Regions from separate parts of the Homo sapiens genome. Here regions 1 and 2 are each reported to be linked to region 3. The links are microRNA targets in miRTarBase. Many come from high-throughput screens and were not tested one by one. Region 3 holds a microRNA gene; each other region holds the end of a gene's coding sequence.
The links. The annotated mature microRNA hsa-miR-3691-5p reads AGUGGAUGAUGGAGACUCGGUAC and lies in region 3 at 1,613-1,635, shown strand. An mRNA with a match to its seed (bases 2 to 7 or 8) in the 3' UTR can be bound and repressed. Matches are read on the target gene's strand: a 7mer-m8 pairs with bases 2 to 8, a 7mer-A1 pairs with bases 2 to 7 and ends in A, and an 8mer does both.

Region 1 (3,354 bases), not on the chromosome of region 3:
TCCTGGTAAATGAAGGTCTCCCAAGTACAACTCTGGCTTTCCTCTTTGGACCCAGACTTCCCTTCGGTCAATTTGGCTTCATTACATGGGTTAAATAGATTTTTTTTTAACCAGATCAAATGTAAGTGGAAACTTATTCTAGAGATGTATGAATCTGGACAGAAACTGAAAAATTAAATTAGGCTGACTATTTGACATTAGATAGAAAGAACACATAAGCAGAAGAGGTGCTATCAGTAATTTATTATTGTTTTTCTTTAATTCAAGTTTCTTTAATTTTAGCTTATATGAATCTAGAGATATACTCCGTATCCAAAGTAATTTTGGAATCAGGAGGGTGGGCCCTCTATCTTGCCACTTATTAGATCTGAGTGAATTTGCTGCTACTGCTAGCAAAGGTGTTCCTTATGTCAAAGCATTCCCTGTTCTGGAGGTGAATGCCACATCAAAGGCAGTGACAGCTTGTCAACTGGCCAAAAGTCCTGTCCACTTTAAGGCAAGCAAACCGGCTGTCAGAACAGAAATGTCTCCGAATGACTGGCAGGCTCAAGTGCACTCTGGGGACCTCACCAGGGCTCGTTCTGGACAGTGGATTCCATGGGAAGGGGATACTAGTCTCCAGATAACAGCCTGAGAAAGATCACATCAAAACTCGTTATCAATTTTTATTTCCTACCATACACCAAATGTACAGCACTGAACACAATTTTGTTGCTTTGATGTAAGAAATATTAAGTGTTTGGAGAAACAGTATACAAACAAACTACCTCAAATTAAAAAAAATGCATACATCATTGCCTTTTTGTTTACAAAAGACCCAATTTACAGTATTGATCATTAACATAGTTGAAAAGAAAACAAATTCAGTGCACATTACAAAACACATCAAGTACAAAGTAGGCAAATAAATACAAACATACTTCACAAAACATCCTGCTCAAACTATGCAAACACAAATAAATTAACCTGAAGTCATAGCAAATTATAGTAATAAATATGTAGGTTGGTAAGAGATTTCTTTTAAATTAAATAAAATATATAACAAACTTGTTAAAATATTTAGCAAATTAAACGTTTGTCTTTGTAATAAGTGAGCTCATTTGTATGCATCTATGAAGTACTGTATAGCAAAATGTTTGCAAGTACACAACTGTAATAGAAAATTTTGTTTGGTGTCCCATTTATAATAGACAGCACATATGGTAGCTCATTTTTTAAAACTGATTTTTAAATAAACACCGTTTCTACCTAAGAACAGACAGTTCATCTTCACTAAACTAAGGTTCAAGAGTTCAAATGAACTCCAAACCAAAGATAAGCCCCACTTAATGCATAACAATGACCAAAGTTTCATGGGAGTGGAATTACTGTTGAGTATTGTTTTTCATTTGTGCAGGTAACAGTAATAACAGTGGAATACATCAAGCCTGTGAATGCCATCACTTTCCATCTAAATATCCATGAGGTTAATAAAAAATAAACACTTTTGTTTATAGCACAGAAAATTAAGCCCACATGAAGTTCATGTGTACATTTACACAGAGGCACGTCTGCACATGAAATGTGTGTGCACACCAAAAAGGCAGTTTAGCTGGTTGTCTATACCTTTTCCTTAAAAAAAATAAATATAAAAAAACTTTTGAAACAATGCTTAACTACTTTACAATCCCTGAAATAGACATTGCCTTTACTATAGAAACTATGAAACTCTGATCCGTTCAGAAATTCAAGATTGTGGGCTCAATTTGAAGTGTGGATGAGTCTGTGTGTGTGTGTGTGTGTGTGTCTGTGTGTGAGTATGCCTGTGTGTGTGAGTGTGTGTGTATATTTTGTAGCATTTGAAGTTTTGTGGCAAGATTTCTATCAAATTGAATGTTGTCTTGTTTCCTATGGTGGGTGAGACCCAAGGTGCCAGTGTTTGAAGTAATCATTCAGATTGGAGTAGCATTTTTTCATGTGTTACTATATTTTCCATTCCTTTCCAGTCAACCCAGTAAGATAAATGCTATTTCAGGGGATATGGTATCTACAAAATTTTTCATTTGGATGTGTTTGTATTTGCTAAGTACAAATCTACACCAATATTGTCACTTGTATATTGTACCAACATATGGCAGGAAAGCCTGGCTGGTCACACCAAGTCTTATTTTTCATCTTGGGATACGAGTTGCCAACGATCTGATATGACTTGAAAAACAAACAGACAAATCTGCATCACTAAAAAGGCTTATGTTTCTTTAAAACATTTCAAATAAATAATTCATATTAACGAAAACCGTCCAGCCAAGTCGAATACTTTGCTGATTGCTATATTTAATTATTGCTAACAAATTCTGAGCAGGCTGTTTTCCAGCATCCTGTGCTTTTGTGAGTGCGGATTCCCCACTAGTGGGCGCCATTTGTCTTCTTATTCCTTCCGTGCAGCTCACCTTACCGCAAATTCATTTATAAATACAAAAATCAGTGAAAGGTGGGGGAAGAAGTGTGCAATAAAAATCAAACTCAACTATAGTGCAGTCCTTAGACAAGGATTTCCTTCACCCTTTCCTGTTTCCTCATTAAAACCCAGCAAGAAAGATGACTTGAGAATAGCATTTCTATTTAAATCCTATTGGAAAATAAATTAATAAACACACTTGTAAAAATACGGCAGACTTCAAAATGCAGTTAAAAGATAAAAAACTCTTTGATTAGTAATAAATAAATTATAAAAATGTCACATTTATTTTACATATACTTTACAAAAAAAAAAAGAGTACAATGAAGAAATAAAAGAAAAACATATGAAAATAAATAAGATCTAATAATTGACTGCATTGCTTTTAATCCAAGAAGTCTATCATAGTTTTTCTTTCCTTTTTATATCAGCTGGGGAAAATAAAATTAGTGCAATGTTGCAAATTGTAAATGCAGTACGGCAACCTCCACGCCTTAGCAGTACATGAACCTCTAACAGATCCATCTGGAGTTTACTGCTGTTGGTAACTTCTGTTGCCCGGCAGCGCTGTGATCCTACACATGGATACCCTTCACTGCCTGTTTGATACTTTCCAGTAGAGCTTTGCATTCCGGGGAATAGTCCCGTTCCAGATTGCTGTACATATCTGTGAGTGTATTTACATATGCTTCAAAATTCTGCTCACTGATAGGTCCCTAAATGGAGACAAAACACATTGACCCAATCACAGTGGTTCAGGCTGAGGGAAAAGAAGGACCCAGTGACATCGAAGATCAGTGATCCGGGAGTCGGGAGGGAAGGCAAGGGTGCATATGACTGCTGGGGTTGCAGGGGATGGAGAGAGACGGAGTGTGTGTGGGATTCATCTGTTCACTCTTAATTCAGGAGACGAATAT
Region 2 (3,000 bases), not on the chromosome of region 3:
GCCCCCTTACCCCAGGGTCCATGGACGCCAGTACTCCTTGGCCCTTGCGCCGCTCTGCCTCTGAGTCACCGTCTCCGAGTCACCGGCTCCCTCCTCACCGCGCTGAGCAGTGGCAGCAGCTGCTGCAGGAACCAGGAAGGAAGGAGATGTCAGAGCCTCCCCTCTAGCCGGATCTCCCCACCTCCCTCTCCCCTGTCCCCTCCTCCCGCCAAGCTCCGGGCAGCCGCTCAGCTCTGCCCCCCTGCTCCCCGGAGGACTCAGGGCTGAGCAGACTGCCCTAGCATCGATGTGGCTTGGGAGTGGGGGCACAGTCCCTGCTGGGCATGGTTCCAGATAGATCAGAGGACTGGGGAACTGTTGGCTGTACGCCAGTGGTGATAAAGGATTTATTCAGACTAGCATGGCAGTGACCCTGTTAGTACCCAAGGCCAATTCCTAATTAACCCCCGCCCCCCGCCTCTCATTTTACATCTGAAAATAGACTGCAAAATTTGGAGCCAGCAAAAGTATCAGGTTGATGGTGGAGGGACAGATGCCCCCTCTGGGACCATAAGAGAGTGCCAAGAGCACAGTCAGCAGGGGCAGTCAAGCCAGGAAAGGGACAGCCAGCAGTCCCCACACTGAGGCCCTTCACTGGGGTGATGCCCCACTAGGTCAGGCCCCATGGAGATCTGAAAGTGCTTGTGTGTATGAAGACACCCCACAGCCTGCAGTCTCTGATCAGGAGCAGGCCTGGGGCAGTCACAGCTGCCGTTAAAAGGGCTGCAATGCTGGTCCCCTCCCTTCCCTTTACCCTTCTGCTGGAGTACTGTGCCCAGCTGCTCAATTCTAATGAAAAATCGGCTCTTAACAAAGATCTAAAATTCATTCAAATGAATGTGGCATAGACCTACAGTTTCAAGCGCAGCTAAGTTTTCTGGAAAGAAGTAGGTGGGGCCTCAGGTGAAGGATGTGATTCAAGTTTCTTCTCTGACCCCAAAAGTGACATGGGCCACTTATCCCTTCCACTTCATCCTCACCGAGCTTGGTTTACGTTTCAGGGTCTCACATATCTCTCGGGAACACCCACTGTCTTGCCTTTATTCAGAGCCTCAGTGCTGCTCCAGCCACCCCAGGAGGAGGGTGTTGTTAGCACCTGGCAGGGTTCTGGGAGGGACAGGAGCACTGGGCAGCACTGACCAGACAAGCTCTGGCATCCAGGAGCCTCAAGGGCCTTTTAAGCCACTTCCCAGTGATTGAACATCCCTGGGCATACAGCACAGGATGAGGCACTGGGGGAAGCTGGTCCTGGCCCAGGCCACAAAAGAGCTGCTGCAGGTCATCCCTGCCAGACAGTGCCTGTCCAAGACTAAGGAAGCGGTGGCATTGCTTCAAGTCCGAGAAGGAATGTTGAACAGCCACCTTCCCCGGGTCACCCCTGCATCCACCCAGAATGTGCTCCAGTCAAGGATGATGGTGGACTCTGAGTTAAGCATCCCGTCTCCTTTATTAGGAATTTCTGGTTCATGAAGACTTGCATGAGGCCTCCTACCCTAGAGCTCTCAGAATTCCCCATTAATAGAGAATCCTAGTTTTCCCGCAGGCCTTTTGTCCAGAACCACCAGAGACACGTTAGCTAGTGGGTACAGCTGTCAGCTGCCTTTAATAGGGCAAGCATGCGCGGGATGCCATTTGTGGGAACAGGTATAGGGGAAGAGGATTTTCCTAGGAAGGGAAGCAAGAGTGAGGAAAGTCAGATGACAGAGAAGCCCCTGAGAGTAAGTTTAGAGGGAGGACAACCGTGTAAACCACAAAATAAAGGAAGTAGAATATATTTCATTTTATTATAAAGCAGTGCTCCCAAACTTTTCACAGCGTACACCTCGAGGGTGGAGAACTAACATCCAAGCACACCTGGATGGTGGATGGGACCCACTTCTGGGTAACCTGATGAGGAAGCTCTAGTGAAGAAATTCAGGACGCGGTCTTCAGAGCAGAGGGCTTGGTTCAAGTCCCTGTTCTGCCACTTACTAACTGCATGACCTTGAGCAAGCCACTTAATTTCTCTGCTCCTTCTCTGTGAAATGGGTACAATGTGGTCAGCAGTAAAGGAACTAATACATGTACAGCACTCAGCACAAAGCCTGGCACACAGCAGGCTCTCACCAGGTGCCATTCTCAGCACAACTGCTTGGTTGAGCTACTGTGGCAGTGGCAGGTTGTGCCCCAAGGGGGTGGGCTCAGGAGCCCGTGCAGCAAGAGGCAGTGACCAAGGAGGCAGGGGACAATAGCCCTATCTTTTCAGGATCTCTGCCTTGGACCTGGAGAATGGAGAGACTTTGCTCCTATCACGTCCCAAGTTGGGAAAACTAAGGACGAAGCCGGTGACTGACATCTGAAATGGAATCCTCTGCATCTCCAAGTGGCCCTATACCTGACAATATCATTACTAGTGAAAACCAAGTGACAAACACACTCCCCGACCCCAAGTTCTTCCACATGTCCCATTGAGGAGAGCACAGCCAATAACGCAGAGTGTATTTATGCGCAGGGCTGGCTAAACAGGCTGGCTACGAGTCCGGAACAGTGTCAGGATCTGGCTTCCCATTGGCCGACATGACAGAATCCTTCTCGCGTTGCTCTCTGATGTACTGGTCCAACAGGGTGGTCAGCTGGAGGGGCTGGTGCTGGAGCAGGGAGTGGGTCTGGGCTGTGAGGCAGGTGAGGCCTCCTACAAGCTCCCCCTGCACCAGGGGCAGGCTGGGGAGCTTGGAGTAGTTGATAAAGCCCTGCCTGCTGAGGATGGTGTCATCAATGCAGCCACCTGGAAGAACACAGGGTCAGTTAGGCTCCTTGCAGATTGCCTTTCTTCTCTGAAAACAATATTCTGACCCTAGTAACTTGCTCTCCATTGCCCTTCTCAAAATCCTGCCTTCCCCAGGACCTGGGTTCCACTGTGCCCCACACCACACCCACTCTGCTTGGGATCGATCCCTACTTCTTCACTCTTCCCTCAGAAAA
Region 3 (3,354 bases):
GCTCGTAGGAAATCATTCAGAGGTGTAACAAACGTAGTACCATGATGAACTAGTAAGACGACATGTTCTGGGAATGGCTTGCACCTGCCTGTTGTGCATATGTGTGTCCATGTGTGGACAGGCATGCTTTTAAGTGGAATTGTGTATCTGATGTTTACGTATCTAAATAATGTATATATAATTTGGTCCAGATTTTCTATTACCTCATAGTTTTATTATTCCAATGAGAACTTTATAAGAAGCCCTCTGATATCCTCATCTCCACAGTAGTCAGGGACTTCAGGGTTCCTCTTCCCACCCCCACCCCCAGAAGACATACCAAGATTTTCAGATTAATGCTTCCCCTAATTCTAGAGTATTTTGGAGAATATCTCTCTGGAGAAGCAATAAGGATCAGTGGTTTGAGCTACGACTTTGAAAGCAGACATGTAAAGAGGTTTGAATCCCAGCTTTACGACATGCTATCTGACCTTGGTTAACCACTGAAAATCTCCCTAGCCTCAGTTTCAGTGTCTGAGATAATGAGCCTGACACCATCCTTGATATCTGTGTCCTGGGGACCTGGAGGAATTAATGAGCTGATGCCATAAAATACCGATCCTGGGTTGAAGGGCCTCTCCTGTGAGGTCTTTCTGTTGCAGTGCGTCTTTGTTAGCAGGCTTTTCCCACGTGTCGGGGCTTCTTTCAGGCCCTCATTTTAGTGTTATCACCACATTAGTGCCTATTTCACTTATTTTTGAAAACCTGAAAATATCATACATACTGATGGAAATTTCATTGAATATTAATGAACACTCAGAACTGTACCTGCAACAGAAAGCGAAATTGGCTAAATATTACTCATCCAATCATTTATCTGAAAGATGGTGTCATTTTCCAATCCTAAAAATATAATAATTAATGTGAAATTTCAGGTTTAAAGTACAGTTTTAAAATATCAAGCAAGCATCATGTCAAAAATGAAATTTTATTAAAGGAGCTATTCTAGACGATTAAGAAATGAAAACTTAGAGTTCTAGGGGAAAAATTCAGAACCACGTTTAATTTTATACTTGGAAGCGCGCTACAAATGACAAGGTAATTTTTATATGTATATTTATAGATTTAATTAGCAGTTATTCCATTATATCTTTCATATAACTATAAATGGAAAATGATTTCAGACAAGAGGCTCTCATCTTCAAGAATTATTGTTGGTAAAGTTATGGGAGAGCTGATTTCTCAGTCACTATAAGCAGAGAGAGAGAGAGAGAGAGAGGTGTGTGTGTGTAAAGGTCATTACCTGTCACCTAATATGAATTCTTTCATTAAAAAATACTTTCTATAACTTTTCTCATTTTCTCATCCATGTTTTGCACTTGAGACTATTTAGAAGGCACCATGACTTGTTCAAGGCGTATACCCAGCCCAGCTCAGGATTACGATACAGAGTTCTAACTCTGCCCCCTCAGCCCAGCTCAGGATTACGATTCAGAATTCTAACTCTCCCCACACAGCACGGGAAGTCCTGCATACCCTGCTGATCTGTGGGTGTCACATAGCCTTGAGGCTCATAAAGGTCTTTGCTTCTCCTTCCTGCTTTTACGTTTCAGTGAATATTGAGGCACTGGGTAGTGGATGATGGAGACTCGGTACCCACTGCTGAGGGTGGGGACCAAGTCTGCGTCATCCTCTCCTCAGTGCCTCAAACGGTCTGGGAGCCAATGTTCAACAAACGAGCATGCGGGTGAGTAAAACACAACCAGCTGTAAGACGTGCTGTTCAAAAGGGCGGGCTGGGAGGGTGGCCGGGACACCAGTCACGGATGTCTTCTGTGAGCAAGAGCTCTTTCATCTGGGACCTGGTGATGAGTAAGGTGACGTGAAGGGAGAGTGGGGGAGGGCAGGTGGCCTGGGGAGTGCTAACGAGCTTGGTGTGTTCTGGAACTGAAAGAAGACAGAGATTGTTTTCCCGCTCCATGTGGAGAGAACCAGTTGCCCACTAATTTACAAAAGGAAAGTCGGACAGTAATCTCTCATCAGCGTGGCTATCAATGAGACCTGGAGCTTCCAGGAAAATTTGGCTTAATAAGTACCATACTGTTACTTCCTCGGGAATATTAAAAAGGAAGGAGCGATGAGACAGAAGGGCCTAATTCACCCTGCCGTGGACCACGTCTGACTTGGCCTGCTAACAAAGCATGTTTAGGCAGTAGGGAGAGAACCGAGGGGAGATGGACGTCTCTACATGGAAATATTTTCTGAATGTGAATTTTAGTATCCCTGTTTCCTGTCTTCCTTCAAAGATGAAAAGGAATCCATGTATAAAACAGGTAGTCACATGAGCATATGTAAAGTTTGGTTAAGCAAATTCAAGGACTTTTTCTACTTACCTAGGGCCAGTATATTCTGTGGACATTGATAACCCATAGTTTCAACTGTAACCTCACATTGATCCCCAGTTTTCAGAGAAAGAGGACACCATCTACTTCTGGTCACTGGCATTTTAGGTGAAATCCTGCAGTGATTGTTTACTGGTAGCCTAATTAGGTACGTTATCCATTATTTAACCCAAAATCCAGGTTAAAATATGACATCAGTGACTTTAGCTAGACCATAACTACACACGTTTACTTCCTGGAGTCATTAAACTGCTTAAAGAAAACAAAATCCCAGCACACCCTTGTTTTGTTAAGGTAACAAAATGAGCTCGTATCAAACATAAATACAGGTTTAAATTACTGTAAAATTTTTTTGTGGACTCAAACACAAACATCACAGCAAAGCTTACCTGTGACCCAATTAGGATCATCATGAAAACATAAATCCCAGTTCTACTCAAGTAATACCAATGGCCTGGTACCAATGGCTTCCAGCAGGCCACTGGGGTTTGACTGCCAACTAGGAAAAGCCCCTGCCTCTGGGGGATAGATGATGGGGAAATCATTCCATCCATCTCAGTGCTGAGCTCTCACATGCTCTTCTGCTTTTCTGTAAATTGACCTAAAATGGCCATCTTTGATGGTCTCTCACTTTCCCTCTAAATCCCTGATGTGAGAATGTATTGGAATTATTTCATGTAACAGTGTGTCTGCCCACAGACCGGCCTCCTGGCTCCAGCTTAGCAGTGTCCAACAGTAAAAATAGAAAAGCCCCTGAGTCTTGTCTTCTTTTGAGAGGAAAGAACCCTTTTGCAGAAGGCCCAGGAACCCCCTCCTCTAGCCACTTTGGCCAGAGTTGTGGTATGCAATTATTCCTAAGCTGTTCACTGGACAGGTAGCTGGGCCCCACCACAACTGCCTAACGTCAAGCAAGATTGATGCCTGGGGGCTGTGCTGGGAAGAGGCCCGCTTCAGGGGGAAATTGGGGCTGTGTT

Region 1: the mRNA of ST18 is a reported target of hsa-miR-3691-5p. Seed matches in the 3' UTR shown: 8mer at 1,752-1,759.
Region 2: miRTarBase lists MRPL10 as a target of hsa-miR-3691-5p. Seed matches in the 3' UTR shown: 7mer-m8 at 1,901-1,907.

Annotation. Positions count from the first base shown.
Region 1 is chr8:52,110,186-52,113,539 of GRCh38, forward strand. It overlaps ST18 (ST18 C2H2C-type zinc finger transcription factor), which reads right to left. Exons shown (of 26, transcript NM_001352837.2): 26 at 653-3,153. The coding sequence ends at 3,013. Among named protein-coding and RNA genes, the nearest start is that of ST18-AS3, 82 kb to the right of the region's middle.
Region 2 is chr17:47,821,656-47,824,655 of GRCh38, forward strand. It overlaps MRPL10 (mitochondrial ribosomal protein L10), which reads right to left. Exons shown (of 5, transcript NM_145255.4): 5 at 1,617-2,803. The coding sequence ends at 2,550. OSBPL7 (oxysterol binding protein like 7) reads right to left here and starts at 139. Exons shown (of 23, transcript NM_145798.3): 1 at 11-139. RefSeq lists a silencer at 102-317 and an enhancer at 428-597.
Region 3 is chr6:5,146,567-5,149,920 of GRCh38, reverse strand. MIR3691 (microRNA 3691) reads left to right here and starts at 1,599; the gene lies at 1,599-1,688. All of the region lies in intron 2 of LYRM4 (LYR motif containing 4), which reads left to right. The region is part of intron 3 of LYRM4-AS1 (LYRM4 antisense RNA 1); the gene reads right to left.